3 separate regions of the Homo sapiens genome follow, and regions 2 and 3 are each linked to region 1. Evidence: fine-mapped expression QTL. A gene starts in region 1. Each other region holds a variant in brackets. All regions are shown on one strand. Distances are between the middles of the regions. Region 1 holds the start of PHLDB3 (pleckstrin homology like domain family B member 3). Region 2 has its middle 9.4 kb from the start of LYPD3. Region 3 holds the start of LYPD3 (LY6/PLAUR domain containing 3).

Region 1 (5,218 bases):
CGCACCGCCACGCCAAGCTCTTTTTTTTTTTTTTTTTTTTTGGCAGAGAGGGGGCGATGCTATGTTGCCCAGGCTGGTCTCAAACTCCTAGGCTCAAGGGATTCTCCCACCTCGGCCTCCCAAAGTGCTACGATTACAGGCATAAGCCACCGCGCCCGGCCTCAGACCCCTGTATTTAAGGTCGGAGTGGGGGAGGGTGCAAGTCCCGTGACCACCCAACCACACGGACCACAGAGGCTTGCAGTACCGTATGGAGGGTGAGCAGGTGTAAAGCCGACTTATGAAAGGTGTTTCTTTTTCTCTATCAGGTCCTATTCTCTTGGCGTCACTTTCTTGTAGTGCCTGGATCTGTCTCTGTCTCTCCACCTGACCCCAGTCTCTCAGATTCGGTATCTGTCCACTAGATCTGTCCACTAGAATCACTAGATCTTTCTTCCTCGGAGTATGTCCCTCTCTCGAGGTTTTTGTCTATTTGTTTCTCTGAGCATCTCTGCCATTTATTTCTGGGTTTCCCTCTGTCTCGATTCCCCTCTCTCTGACTCTAGTCTCACTGTGTCTCTGTCTTTTTGGGGTCTTTGTCTCTCAGTCTCCATGTCTCTGGGTCTCTGTCTGGCTTCTTGATCTCTCTGCATCTCTTACTCGTTTGGTTCTCTCTGTTCTGTAGTCTCTCCTGTCTGTCTATCTGGTCTCTCTCTCTCTCTCTCTCTCTCTCTCTCTCTCTCATTTTTAGAGATAGGTTCTGCTTTGTCCCAGGCTGGGGTGCAGTGGCGCAGTCATAGTTCACCGCAGCCTACAACTCCTGGGCTCAAGCGATCCTCCTGCCTCAGCCTCCCGAGTAGCTGGGATTACAGGCACGCGGCACTGCGCTTGGACAATTTTTGTATTTTTTTTTTCTCTAGAGACAGGGATTTGCTATGTTGCCCAGACTTGTCTCGAACTCCTGGGCTTAAGCAATCCTCCCCTCGGCCTCCCCAAGTGCTGGGATTACAGGCGTGAGCCACCTATCTGGTTCCTCTATACTAGTCTCTCTGTCTCTGTCGCCCGTTTGGGTCTATCTCCGTTCTTGGGGCCTCCCCGTGGCTCTATCTGGTTTCTGTCTCTGTATCTGGTTTCTGTCTGTCTGTGCCTCTGCCTCTCTGGCTCCGTGTCCTGGTGTATCTCTCTCTCAGTAGTCTCTGCTATCACTCGGTCTCTCTCCCTGTCTCCGGGTCTCTGTCTTTCTGGTTTCCCTCTACCTGTCTACCTGTCTGGCCACCTGTTTGGGTCCCCGTCGGTCCAAGCCCCCCGCGCTGTCGCCCTCGGGCCCCTCACCGCGTCGCGGCTGCTCTCAGTGCTGCTGCCTTCTCCCACTTCTTCTTCCTCTGCCTGCTGCTCAGCTCCCCCGCGGCTCGAAGGTTCCGCCAGGACTTCGGATGCCTCCTGTTCCCGGGACTCCTCGGGATGGCCCTGGGGCTGGACCTCCACGTCGCATTCCGGGACCAGCGGCGGCGGGGTCCCCTCCTCGGGGCTGCTTCGCGTCCCCATGGCCGCTGGGACTCCTGCGGGGTGGGCGGGACCAGAAGCTCCGGGGGCGGGGCCTAGGACGGCTGAGCGCCGCTCGCGTCTGCTCCGGGGCGCGGAGACCCCCCCCCAAGGAGGCGGGGCCTAAGAGTTCAAAGGATGGAACTGAGCGTTACGGAGGCGTGTCCTGAAGTTTCCAGAGGCGGGGCTTGATGGCTCCAAGGCGACACGCCACCGGAGACGGGACCGGAATTTGAGTCCGGGTCGTAGCACGCCCCCTACTGACCTCTTCGACCCCGCCTCCCCTCCCTCATCTCTAGGTGTCAGGCCTTGTACCCTCCCAGCAGCCCCCTACAATCTCTTGGATTCGCTTAGAGCGACCCATCTTCTCCCTCCGAGACTCAGCAGTTCGGCTCCCGCCCCATCCTTCCCGGAGCCCCGTAGTCTTAGTCCCGACCCCACTGTGCAGGGCAACCGTGCCCACGCCGCCTCACCCAGGGATCCAGGAGTCGGGGCTCTCCTTCTCTGAACAAGCCAGGAGTCGGAGTCCTTGAGATTCCGAAGTCCAACTGCCACCTCCCCACAGCCTCGGCCCCCTCACGAGCTCAGGCTTCGGCGCGCTCCGCTCTGCGCGCTGGGCACGGCCGCTTCTGCCTATGAGACAGGTGGCAGGGGAAGAGGGAGGAGAGAGGCCGCCCGGTCCCCCTCCCCAGCAGCCCGGAAGTGGAGGGGGGACAACAGGTCCAACAGCTCCCGAGGGAGGAGGGAGCCACGGGCTTGCCCCACCCGTGGCCTCGGCATCCGGCCATCCCGGCCCCACCGGCCCCGGCCCGGCCCCACCCTCGTGGAACTCAGCATCGCGACCTCCCAGTCTCCCTCGAGCCCCTCATTCCTGCCCCCCTGGAGGAGTCTTGGCCACCTCTGTATGGGAGCCTCTCTAATGTCCAGACCTTGGGAGTTCAGAAAGGAAGGCAGGAATGGAGATGGGGACGTCTCCCCTCTAATGAGCCCTTCAGAAGGGCCCTGACCGGTTTGGGGAGCTGGACAAGGGGAAGGGGTGCCCTGAACTGAGTCAGACACCTGCCCAGAGACTGAGGGAAGTGTACCGCCACCCCCCCACAACTTTGCTATGGGGTGGAGGGCAGAGGTTAAAGGTCTCAGCCAGACCCTTTCCTCTCTGGGCGAAAACAGGAAAATGAAAACAGGAAAATAACTGGTATATGAAAAGGGATGATTAGAAGTCAAGAGCTGTGTGAAACACTTTATACCCAGTCATTTAATTTCACCCTCAAAGCTGTCCAGCGAGAAAGTGATTACTACCTCCATTTCTTTTTTTTTAGTAGAGACTGGGTTTCTCCAGGTTGCCCAGGCTGATCTTGAACTCCTGGGCTCAAACAACCTGCCTGCCTCAGCCTCCCAAAGTGTTGAGATTACAGGCGTGAGCCACCGCTCCTGGCCTACTATCTCCATTTTACACTTGGGGATACAAGCTGAGGAGGACAAATGCACCCAAGGTTGGCTGGGCACAGAGGCTCAGGCCTGTAATCCCAGCACTTTGGGAAGCCGAGGCAGGTGGATTGCTTGAGATCAGGAGTTCAAGGCCAGCCTGGGCAACATGGAGAAACCCCATCTCTACTAAAAATACAAAAATTATGCCAGGCGTGGTGGCACACACCTGTCATCTCAGCTACTCCAGAGGCTGAGGCAGGAGGATATCTCGAGCCCAGGAGGTCGAGGCTGCAGTGAGTCTTGAATGTGCCACTGCACTCCAGCCTGGGCGACAGAGTAAGACCCCATCTCAGAAAAAAAAAAAAAAATGTAGCCAACATCTACACATGTTGTAAGTGGTAAAATGCAGGCTTCATTCTCTCAAAAGTCCATGTTCTTAACCATTGCGTATACTGTCACTACAAGCCAGGAAGTACCCAAAAGATCATTCTAAATGATAGTAACTTTAATGGTGAACACTGATAGGCCATGTGCCAGGCACTCACACACATTGACTCATCAGAGCATCACAACACCCCATTATTATTCCTTCCATTTTAGAGATAAGAAAACTGAGGCCTAGAGAAGTGAAGTAACTTACCCCAGGGCTAAGTGGGAAGTGGCTCAAAAGCAAGCCGGTGTTCTAATCCAAGGTGATGAGAAGACCTGCCCCAGATAGCTGTGTTTGTTTTTGATCTTGTGAGTTAGAAATCTTGTGGGCTCCCGGGCTGGGCGCGGTGGCTCACACCTGTAATCCCAGCACTTTGGGAGGCCGAGGCTGGTGGATCACGAGGTCAGGAGATCAAGATCATATTGGCTAACATGGTCAAACCCTGTCTCTACTAAAAATATGAAAAAATTAGCCGGGCATGGTGGCACGCGCCTGTAGTCCCAGCTACTTGGGAAGCTGATGCAGGAGAATCGCTTGAACCCGGGAGGCAGAGGTTGCAGTGAGCCGAGATCGTGCCACTGCACTCCAGCCTGGGCAATGGAGGGAGACTCCATCTCAAAAAAAAAAAGAAAAGAAAAAGAAAACAAATCTTGCAGGCTCCCTGGCCTCTCCATAGGACCAGAACCCCACCCCTTTCGGCCCAGAAACCCAATTGGTTCCCCCAGAAAATAGGTAGAAGTCAGACTCACGTTAAAAAAAGTTTTATTTAGGGAGCTCCAGGGAATGCGGTGGGAAAGGAGAGGTGCAGTGTCATTGCCGCCCTCTCCTCCCACCTAGTGCATTAATAGTGGATGGGAGCATCTGACAGAAGTGAGATCAGGCAGTGGGTGTCTGCACCCCACAGCGCATGTTGGCTGGAACAGCAAAGTCTGAAAGGAAGAAATCAAGGTTAAAACTAAGGGGCCTAGGTAGAGTTCCAGGCCCCACTGGAGACCCAGAAATCCTAGGAACCTTTCCTCTTCAGGAAACTAGAGTTTTGGTCCTGAGCCCACTCCTTCCCTCAGACCCAGGAGTCCAGTACCCCAGCCCCTCCTCCCTCAGACCCAGGAGTCCAGACCCCCAGCCCCTCTTCCCTCAGACCCAGGAGCCCAGACCCCCAGCCCCTCCTCCCTCAGACCCAGGAGTCCAGTCCCCCAGCCCTTCCTTCCTCAGACCCAGGAGTCCAGTCCCCCAGCCCCTCCTCCCTCAGACCCAGGAGTCCAGTCCCCCAGCCCCTCCTCCCTCAGACTCAGGAGTTCAGACCCCCAGCCCCTCCTCCCTCAGACCCAGGAGTCCAGGCCCCCAGCCCCTCCTCCCTCAGACCCAGGAGCCCAGGTCCCCAGTCCCTCCTCCCTCAGACCCAGGAGTCCAGGCCCCCAGCTCCTCCTCCCCCAGTCCCTCCTCCCTCAGACCCAGGAGCCCAGGTCCCCAGTCCCTCCTCCCTCAGATCCAGGAGTCCAGGCCCCCAGTTCCTCCTCCCTCAGACCCAGGAGTCCAGGCCCCCAGTTCTTCCTCCCTCAGACCCAGGAGCCCAGGCCCCCAGCCCAGCCCCTCCTCCTTCAGACCCAGGAGTCCAGGCCCCCAGCTCCTCCTCCCTCAGACCCAGGACCCCAGGCCCCCAGCCCCTCCTCCCTCAGACTCAGGAGCCCAGGCCCCCAGCCCAGCCCCTACTCCCTCAGAGCCAGGAGTCCAGGCCCCCAGCCCCTACTGCCTCAGACCCAGGAGTCCAGTCCCCCAGCCCCTCCTCCCTTAGACCCAGGAGTCCAGGCCCCCAGCCTCTCCTCCCTCAGACCCAGGAGT
Region 2 (5,218 bases), 49 kb before region 1:
TGTCACCCAGGCTGGAGTGCAATGGTGCAATCTTGACTCATTGCAATCTCTGCCTCCCAGGTTCAAGCAATTCTCCTGCCTCAGCCTTCCAAGTAGCTGGGATTACAGGTGCACACCACCGCGCCTGGCTAATTTTTGTATTTTAGTAGAGACCGGGTTTCACCATGTTGGGCAGGCTGGTCTCGAACTCCTGACCTCAAGTGATCCAACTGCCTCAGCCTCCCAAAGTGCTGGGATTACAGGTGTGAGCCACCACACCCAGCCATTGCCATTTTATAGATGAGAAAACTGAGGCACAGAAAGATGATGGGGCTTGTCCAAAGTCACGAGCTAGAGCAGGAGCAGGGATTTGAACCCCAGCCATCGGGCTCCTTGCAAGGAGAGCAGAGATGGGTTCCTACATGGTCATTCCTTGGGCTGGGTGAGTGTGAGCCCTTGGTGGTCCAATCCTACTCCCCCCAGAGGTCTCAGTAAAGAGAGAATGCTAGTGATTCTTGAGAATACTGAAGGGAAAACCCACAGTTGGTCCCAAGAACGACGGTGTGGGTGGAAGTGAAGAGATGTGGGAAAAGATTTTCCTCTTTCTTGCCCCAGATTGCCAGGGAGTTGGAAAAATCCCCTTGCACTATGGGCTATAGACTAGTGGCTGTCACTGCTACTGGATTCTTCATCACTGGAAAAGCAGAAAGTTGGGGTGAGTTCCCTGTGAAGTCCCAGACCAGGAGAATGGATGTAGGAGGAGGGCCTCTCTTTGTTCTTGTTTTTTGTTTGTTTGGTTTGGTTTGGTTTTTGTGGGGTTTTTTGTTTTGTTTTGTTTCTGAGACAAGGTCTTGCTCTGTCACCCAGGCTGGAGTGCAATGTCATGATCAGAGCTCACTGCAGCCTCAACCTCCCGGGGATCAAGCGATCCTCCCACCCCAGCCTCCTGAGTAGCTGGGATTACAGGCGCGTGCCACCACACGCCTGGCTAACTTTTGTACTTTTTTTAGAGACGAGGTTTCACCATGTTGTCCAGACTGGTCTAGAACTCCTGGGCTCAAGCTATCCTCCCACCTCGGCCTCCCAAAGTGCTAGAATTACAGGTGTGAGCCACCGTGCCCGGCCAGGAGAGCCTCTCTTCAACAAGCATCTCCAGTGTGCCAGGCTCTGGAAGGAGAACTCTAGTCTCTCATTTTATGACCCTCCCTTTCCAAATGGGGAAACTGAGGCTCAGAGGAGACATGTGACTCATCCAACATCACACAGAGGGGAAGGATGGAAAAGTTTCCTCCCACCCCCATCCCATGGCCACCCAATTCCCTTTCCAGAGGCAATGGTATTTATTGCCTTGTGGGTATTTCTTGACATGTTCTAGGCATATACAAGCATTTACACACAGATTTTTTTTTTTACACAATAGTGGTACACTGTTCTGTATCTTATCTTTCATTTTACTTAACATTATTTTCAAGATCTTTCCACATTAATACAAATAGATGTGCCTGGTTTTATTTATTTTATTTAATTAATTTATTTTTGAGACAGAGTCTCACTCTGTCACCTAGGCTAGAGTGCAGTGGCGTGATCTTGGCTCACTGCAACCTCCACCTCCTGGGTTCAAGCAATTCTCCTGCCTTGCCTCCCAAGTAGCTGGGATTACAGGCACCCACCACCACGCCCAGCTACTTTTTGTATTTTTAGTAGAGAGGGGGTTTCGCCATGTTGGCCAGGATGGTCTTGAACTCCTGACCTCAGGTGATCCACCCGCCTCGGCCTCCCAAAGTGCTGGGATTACAAGCGTGAACCACTGCACCTAGCTCATTTTATTTTTATAATGCCCATAAAGCATCAAACTGTGTGAGCACACCATCATAAGCATAACCAGTTCCCTCCTGATAAACATTTAGGTTATTCCTAATGTTTTGTTATTCCAAACACTACTGCAATTAACATCCTGGAGCAGACCTGACATCAGCCTCAGGCGTCCATGTCTACATGTGAGATAAATTCCTGAGAGAAAAACCTGCCAAGTCAGAAGCGATCTGCATTTGTCATTTAGAAAGACGTTTCCAAATTGCACCCCAATTTCCCTCCCCTGCAACTGATTGACCAACCATTTCTCAAAAGGGCTTTTTGAGC[A/ACT]CTCTCTCTCTCTCTCTCTCTTGCTGTCTCTGTATTTTTTTAATGTTTGACAGCAAGAAGATAGTCATGTCTTGCTTATGTAATTAAAATTAAACAAGCCCTTCGTTAAAAACACACAAACCCAGGAAGAAGAGAAACCAGCAAGGCCAGTTCAGGCAGATCCACCCTGCCCCTTGTCACACCTGCCTTGTCCCCAGCAAGCCCTGAAAAAGAGGCTGAAATCAATTTCTCACACATGGACCTCAGACATCAAACCTTGGAAAAAATACAGGAAAGAGATTTTGTAACTTTCCCCCTCTGTGGCTTTTCGTACGGCTAAACCCTCTCACTCTCTCTTCCCTTTCTTTCTCCTCGTCCTTTTTCTTCTTTCTCTCACTTCTGTTTTGGTGAGCTGTCATTAAAAACACTTTAAAGCCGTGTCCAGTCTAATAAGTTATACAGAATCTGGCTGTGTGTGTGTGTGTGTGTGTGTGTGTGTGTGTGTGTGTCTGTGTGTGAGAGAGAGAGAAAGAGAGAGAGACAGAGTCTCACTCTGTCGCCCAGGCTGGAGTGCAGTGGTACAATCACAGCTCACTGCAGCCTCCGCCTTCCGGGTTCAAGTGATTCTCCTGCCTCAGCCTCCCAAGTAGCTGGGATTGTAGGCGCGCACCACCAAGCCTGGCTGATTTTTTTTTTTTTTTTTTGAGACAGAGTCTCACTCTGTCACCCAAGTTGGAGTGCAATGGCACAATCTTGGCTCACTGCAAGCTCCGCCTCCCAGGTTCAAACGATTCTTCTGCCTCAGCCTCCTGAGTAGCTGGGACTACAGGAGTCCGCCACCACGTCCAGCTAATTTTTGTATTTTTAGTAGAGACAGGGTTTTACCATATTGGCCAGACTGGTCTTGAACTCCTGACCTAAGGTGATCCGCCCGCCTCGACCTCCCAAAGTGCTGGGATTACAGGCGTGAGCCACCATGCCCAGCCGATTTTGTTGCATTTTTAGTAGAGATGGGGTTTCGCCATATTGGCCAGACTGGTCTCGAACTCCTCACCTAAGGTGATCCGCCCGCCTCGACTTCCCAAAGTGCTGTGATTACAGGCGTGAGCCACCATGCCCAGCCGATTTTGTTGCATTTTTAGTAGAGATGGGGTTTCGCCATATTGGCCAGACTGGTCTCAAACTCCTGACTTCAAGAGATCCACCCGCCTCGGCCTCACAAAATGTTGCGATTATGGGTATGAGCCACCACACCTGGCCAGAATCTGGTATTTTTAACAGAAAGCAGAGCTAGGAGCTTAAAAGTAGAAACTAGATGAGCAAAACAATTGATTATATTTGAAACACATTAAGCTCTTCTTTTCTCTTCTCCTCCTGAACACAAGCAAGTAACTGTCTGGAAGGAGGTTGGAGGGGTTGCGGTGGGGGAGCGGGAGTCTCAGGGCCCATAATGGGTTTCAGAGGCCAAGATGGATAAGGAGGTCATCCTCCCAAGAAGATGGGAAGGCTGGACAGTGACAGCTGCAAAAGATTGGTTACTTTCAGGGGGATGGATCCGCTAAGTAAATATATTGCCAGCCTGGCCAACATAGCGAATTCCCATCTCTACTAAAAATACAAAAATTAGCCGGGCGTGGTGGTGTGCACCTGTAGTCCCAGCTACTCGAGAGGCTGAGGCAGGAGAATTGCTTGAACCTGGGAGGCAGAAGTTGCAGTGAGCCAAGATCACGCCACTGCACTCCAGCCTGGGCAACAGAGTGAGACTCCATCTCAAACAACAACAAAAAAAAGCATTGGAAGCCAGATTTCTTTTTTTTGAGACAGTGTCTTGCTTTGTCACCCAGGCTGGAGTGCAGTGGCACCATCATGGTTCACTGCAACCTCGGCCTCCAGGGTTCAAGCGATCCTCCCACCTCAGCATCCCCAAGTAGCTGGGACTACAGGCACGTGCCACCACACCTGGCTAATTTTTAATGTATTTTTCTTAGAGACGAGGTTGCCCAGGATGGTCTTAAATTCCTGGACTCAAGGGATCCGCCTGCCTCAGCCTCCCAAAATGCTGGGATTACAAGCATGAGCCACCACGCCCAGCTGAGTGGTAGGGATTTTGAGCTGGGGTGAATGGCGATTGTAGGTCATTTGCATTTTTAATCGGCTTTACCCAGAAGAGAAGGCAACTTTCTTCTGTCTTCATGACAGGAGGTATTTTACAACTGAGAGCTGAGTCATGTACCAAAGTTAGGCTCTCACCTTCCTGGGGGGAGATAGGAGTGCTATTTCCTTTTATGTTTACAATTTCAAAAAGATAGTTTCCTGGGTCCTGGTCACTCATCCCTGTAATCCCAGCATTTTGAGAAGCCAAGGCAGGAAGATAGCTTGACCCCAGTTCAAGATCAGCCTGGGCAACATAGTGAGACTCCATTTCCTGGGCTATCAACTGGCAAGATACTTTTTTTTTCTTTTTTTTTTTGTGACAGAGTGTCATTTTGTCGCCCCCAGGCTGAAGTGCAATGGCGTGATCTTGGCTCGCTGCAACCTCCGCCTCCCAGGTTGAAGCGATTCTCATGCCTCAGCCTCCTGAGTAGCTGGGATTACAGGCACTTGCCACCACACCTGGCTAATTTCTGTATTTTTAGTAGAGACGGGGTTTCAACATGTTGGTCAGGCTGGTCTTGAACTCCTGACCTCGTGATCCACCCGCCTTGGCCTCCCAAAGTACTGGGATTACGGGCGTGAGCCACCGCGCCCGGCCAAGACTTTTAAAGAGGTTTATATCCATCTCAAATGGACAAAGAAATAATTTACAATGACAAGTTTTCTCAAGTAAATGCTCTAAGAAAAGGGAGGTAAGGGGCCTCTGTGGTTAGACCCTCTGGATTCTGAGGGCCTAGAGGCAGGAGGAAGCCTGTCTAAAGTTTAGTCAAGCTGAGGGAAACATTATGGCAGTGTTGGTACACTCTGTAAAGCTGACCTGCCCGTGTTCAAATCCGAGCTCCACTGCTTAATAGCTGAGTGACGTGGGGCAAGTTTCTTAACCTCTCTAGCCCTGATTTCCCCATCTTGTAAAATGCAGGTGATTAACACTTACTTCATAGGATGGTTTTGTAGATTAAATATATTA
Region 3 (5,218 bases), 40 kb before region 1:
TAGCCTTCACCCTGGCTTTTACCTCCCCATCAGAATTTACTCTTAGAGTCAGAGTTACATCTCCACACCAGGCTCAGTGGTTCACGGCTGTAATCCCAGCACTCTGGGAGACCTAGGCAGGGGGATCTCTTAGCCCAAGAGTTCAATACCAGCCTGGGTAACATGGCAAGACCCCACTGTTACCAAAAATAAAAGGAACCAGTCGTGGCGGTGCACCCTGTAGTCCCAGCTACTTGGGAGGCTGAGGCGGGAGGACTGCTTGAGCCCAAGAGGTAGAGGCTGCAGTGAGCTATGATTGCGCCACTACACTCCAGGCTAGGCGATAGAGCAAGATGCTGTCTTTAAAAAAAAATAGTAATAATAAAATAAAAAAGAACTACATCTTCCATAGCATAACTGGCAGGGGATGGGATTTGAAGAACTTCATTTTCCATGGTTACATTTCTCAATAGTCTGGGACAGGCGGGGGACCCCTTGAGTTTTAAGGGCTAAGAACTAGAGATTCCCCGCAGTGCCTGGGCAGAAGCTTAGAGGCTTAAATACCTCTTAAGTACCTGGCAGCCCTCTATGGAAATGCATTTCCCTCCAAAACACTCTGGGACAAAGCATCACTATCCCCACACTATTAATATGTTGGGGGAAGGGACTGCATTTTCCATGATGCCCTACGATACAAGCACCTAGGCCCCACGATTCCCAGAATGCGTCGCAGGTTAAGGAAACGCTTTGGGTAAAGGGCTCCCTACCGCCCAGGGTGCTTCAGAAGGGCTACCACAACTCCCGTAGGTCCCGTGCTCCGGGGCTCCCTCACCTGCCGTCAAGGTGACGTTGCCGTCGAAGCAGCCCTTGTAGACATGATCGCTGGCGTTGTAGCAGCTCACGACCGGCGGCGATGTACCCTGGCACGCCTCCCGGCTCAGGCCCACACAGCTGTAGCACTCCACGCCGTTGGGCGGGTATGCACTCTCATTACCTGCGAGGGGAGCCGAGAGGAAGAAAAGGTGTCGAAAGGGTTCGGGAACCGCAGCTCGTCCTCTAGCCCCGCCCCTAAGGCCTGGCCCCGGCACTATCGATGACCCCGCCTACTAGTAGCCCCGCCCCAGCGCGCAACCTCGCGGCGCCTACAGCCAGAAAGTCCCTCCTGCTGCCTCTTGGCCCCGCCCCAGAGTGTGACCCCACCCCCAGCCCAGGTCGAGTACTCCCGCCTCTGCCACGGCTCCACCTCTATCTTGGCAGGCCCGAATGTGGCTCCGCCCCCGCAGCTACGGCCCGGCCCCCACGGACCTGCCGGGTCGAGCGCCCGCGAGGTGAGGTTGAGCTTGGCGTTGCAGCGATCCTGAGCGCATTGCTGCAGCTGGATGAACGCCAGAAGCCCGTGAAGATCCAGGCCGCGGTCATTCTTGCCGGGGAGTCCCGAACCGCAACCCCGCACTGCCAGCGAGAATTGTCCGTGGACTAGGGAGAGGGACAAGGGCGGGATTAGCTGTGGGCGTGGTCTCAGATGGGGCGTGGCCCAGAGTTGGGTAGGGTCTGGGAGGGGCGGGGCCTCAAATAGGCCAACACCACAGGACCGACAGGCAGGAATTGGCGGATGGACGCCCCCAAAGAGCCGCTCAGAGCGGAAAGAACGACCGAAGCAGGGAGGAGCGGGGTCACGGAACGGGGGCGGAACCTCAAAGAGCTGAGTCGGAGGAGACAGCCTGGTTGACAGGCAGGGATGGGGAGGTCTCATTGGTGGAGCAGAAAAAGTGCATAGGACGTGACCTCGTTCCAAACCCGAGCTCTCCCCGTCCGCCCCACCCAGTTCTCAACTCTCTGCTCCTCGCGCTTGTAATTGTTAATAGAGAAGGCCTGGCCTGCAAGGCTGTGTCGTAGGGTCCCGGCCAGGCTGAAAGGGAGGGGTGGGGCCGCGTTAAAGGGGCGTGGCCAGATCCAGAAAGGACTATAAGGAGGCGGGGCTGGGCCGGAGGAGCCTGCAGTGGTGTGCGTGGCCCGGGGGTCCCCACTCACTGGTCTCCACCGCCCCCACGGCCTCGGTGCAGACGTCCACGCCCGGCGCGCACTTCACTGTCTTCATCTTGTTCGGGGAGCATCCGTCATCTGCTTTCTGCACGCAGCTGTAGCACTCCAGGGCCTGCGCTCCTGGGGGAGCGGAGCCGAATAGACCTGAGCCCTCCTTGCTAAAGCGTCCACCCCCAAGGAGAAATAGTCCTTCCCATGCCCTCTGTCCCGGGATTAGACAGTCTTATTGCACACACTTTTCCAGGGCAGGAGTAGGGAAAAGCTTTCCACAAATCTGGAAGCACGGGAATCACTGGACCCTTTTCCTTCACACCCACTATGCCAACTGTGGGCACATCCTTCCGACAGCCCTGTATGCCCACTGTAGGCGATCCCCGCCATGAAGCCCCTCATCCCGGGGTAGGAAGGATACCTCCTCACGGTTTTCTGCTCAGAATGAGAGAACTTTTCCCACAGTGTGTGGGAGAACTTTTCCCACAGTAGACTGTGCTCAGTGAGGGATCCCTTCCCACAGCCCCCTTCTGCTCAAATGAGAGAACACTACCCACAGCTTCTCTGCCCAGGACAGGGAACACTTTTTTCTTTTTTTCTTTTT[TTC/T]TTTTTTTTTTTTTTGAGACGGAGTCTCGCTCTGTCGCCAGGCTGGAGTGCAGTGGCGCAATCTCGGCTCACTGCAACCTCCCCTCCTGGATTCAAACGATTCTCCTGCCTCAGCCTCCCGAGTAGCTGGGACTACAGGCTCGCGCTACCGCGCCCAGCTAATTTTTGTATTTTTAGTAGAGACAGGGTTTCACCATGTTGGCCAGGCTGGTCTCGATCGTTTGACCTCATGATCCGCCTGCCTCGGCCTCCCAAAGTGCTGAGATTACAGGCATGAACCACCGCGCCCGGCCTAGGAACAGGGGACTTCTTTCTGCAGCTTCAGGATAGGAAAATTTTGCCCACAGCTCCCCTTGTCCGTGGTGGGGAACCCTTCCTACGGCCCATGGTGGAGGACCCTTCCCTCTGCCTCCCTTGCTTAGGATGGGGGAACTTTGCCCACAGTGCCCTCTGCTTATGTGGGGATCCTTCCCACAGCCTTCTCTGTACGGGGCCAGAGGAGCCTCCTCCCTAAGAGCCCCCACTCTACCCCCTCCACCTCTCCGGGCAGCAGACCCACCTCCGCGAAGCAGCAGCAGCAGCAGCCAGCCTGCAGTCCAGATCATGGCCTGGGCACCTGCTTTCCTGGCGGGGTCCATGGCTCCGTCCTGCTCCCTTGGCGTCCCCCCTGGATGTGCCGCCTCCGAGCTCGGGCCCTCTTACCTGAGCCCAGGATGAGTAACCTCGCCCCAGGCAACCCCAGCCTTGCCCAACCGGGCCAACTCAGCGTCGGCTGTGGGGCGGGGCCCCGCCCCTAGGCGCGTCATCCAAGGGAGAGCGGTCCCTGCCCTGTGAAGTTGCCAAGGAGGGAAAGGGTGGGAGCTGAGGTTCCCTGACAGCTCGCGGGAGAAAGTCTGTGTGTGTTTGGAGTGGGAGAGTAGTGGGGCTTAAAGACAGGCTGGGGCTACTCGACATTCAGTGTTCGGTAACTGTTAAATGAGCATCTACAGTGTGCCCGGCTTTGGTCTAGGTAATGCTGGAGATGAAGACAGAACCAGTGCCTGTCCTGGCAGAGCTCACAGTCTGATGGGGGAGACAGATGCTAATCAAATAATCGTACAAATTGGTGTTTACCAAAGAGACTAAGACACTGAAGGAAAAAGTGTAGTGATACAAGGAGATGTGCAGTCTAGAAGTGGGGGCTGGTCGGTGAGGGCTTCCTTGAGGTTATCTGAGATGCAACCTCAAGGGCATGCAGGATGTAGCCAGCTAGAGCAGGTCAAGAGAGGGACACAGCCCTTTACAAGCAGAGGGAACAGCACGTGGGAGCACCTGGAGGTAGGAGGTAGGATGGACCATTCAAACATGGAAAGGAGAGCAGTGCTCCTGAGCTCAGAAGTCCATGAGAGAAGGGCAGGAACTGAGATGAAAGAGTCAGGCAGAGGCCGAGACACTCAGGGCATCAGAGGCCCCGACAAGAGATTTGGATTAATTTTGAGAATAGTAGAGAACCTTTAAGAGGGTCTAAATGAGCTGGAGGACATAATAGATTTGCTTCCTAATATGATCAACCTGAGAAATAGTGCAGCTAGCCATCAAGAAGTAAATGGAGGCCGGGCGCGGTGGCTCATGCCTGTAATCCCAGCAATTTGGGAGGCCGAGCTGGGTGGATCACTTGAGATCAGGAGTTTGAGACCAGCCTGGGCAACATGGCGAAACCTCATCTCTATTAAAAAAAAATAATAAATTTAAAAAAATTAGCCAGGTGCAGTGGCGTGCACCTGCTGTCCCAGCTACTCGGAAGGGTAGGGCAGGAGAATCACTTGAGCCCAGGAGGTGGAGGTTGCAGTGAGCTGAGATCACGCCACTGCACTCCAGCCTGGGCAACAGAGTGAGACCCTGTCTCAAAAAAAAAAATTTAAAAATTTAAAAATTAAAAAAAAGTAAATGGATCTGAGAGTAGGATATATGATTTTAAAAAAGGAAAAAGAAAAAGAAGTGAATGGCAAAAGAGAGTGGTTGGTTCGGCCAATGGAATACTACACAGCAATAGAAAAGATCCAACACCTGATATATGCAGCAACATATCTCAAAAACTTTGTGTTGGGGCCAGGCACAGTGGCTCACACCTGTAATCCCAGCACTTTGAGACACCAAGGTGGGAGGATCACTTGAACCCAGGGGTTTTGAGACCAGGCTGTGCAACATAGTGAGATCCCATCTCATTTTATTTTAAAAAAAGAAAAAACTTGGTGTTGAGTTTAGAAAGCCTTAAACAAACAAACAAAACATACTGTGTAACTGAATATATATGAAGTTTCAGAACAGACAAAACTAACCAGTGGTGATAGAAATCAGAACACATGTTACCTTTGGGAGGGCATGGCCCCAGAAGGAGCAACAGGGAGGAGCCCCCACGATCTTCATCTAGGTGACAGCTGCATGTGTGTACAGATACGTTGAGAATCACTGACTCAGGCCTGTCACTGGACGTATGTTATTCTTCAATAAAAACAAGGTAAAGAATGTCACTGTGGACTCTGTGTAAAAAAGGAAAATGACTCTAGAAGGGGTGAGAGAGAAGGCCAGGAAACCAACAGGGGGCCGTGTAGTTTTCCAT

The links. PIP is the estimated chance that this variant, and not a neighbour inherited with it, causes the effect.
Region 2: its variant is fine-mapped to the expression of PHLDB3 in whole blood (INTERVAL, PIP above 0.99).
Region 3: its variant is fine-mapped to the expression of PHLDB3 in monocytes after LPS (Fairfax 2014, PIP 0.95).

Annotation. Positions count from the first base shown.
Region 1 is chr19:43,502,595-43,507,812 of GRCh38, forward strand. PHLDB3 (pleckstrin homology like domain family B member 3) reads right to left here and starts at 2,152. Exons shown (of 16, transcript NM_198850.4): 1 at 1,995-2,152; 2 at 1,312-1,538. The coding sequence starts at 1,524. ETHE1 (ETHE1 persulfide dioxygenase) reads right to left here. Exons shown (of 7, transcript NM_014297.5): 7 at 4,125-4,308. The coding sequence ends at 4,256. RefSeq lists an enhancer at 1,288-1,810 and silencers at 1,439-1,688, 2,289-2,348.
Region 2 is chr19:43,453,581-43,458,798 of GRCh38, forward strand. No RefSeq gene overlaps it. Among named protein-coding and RNA genes, the nearest start is that of LYPD3, 9.4 kb to the right of the region's middle. The variant A/ACT (reference allele first, on the strand shown) is at 2,119.
Region 3 is chr19:43,462,315-43,467,532 of GRCh38, forward strand. It overlaps LYPD3 (LY6/PLAUR domain containing 3), which reads right to left and starts at 3,294. Exons shown (of 5, transcript NM_014400.3): 1 at 3,179-3,294; 2 at 2,011-2,142; 3 at 1,285-1,455; 4 at 812-973. The coding sequence starts at 3,257. RefSeq lists enhancers at 823-882, 913-962, 1,515-2,046 and a silencer at 1,113-1,272. The variant TTC/T (reference allele first, on the strand shown) is at 2,618.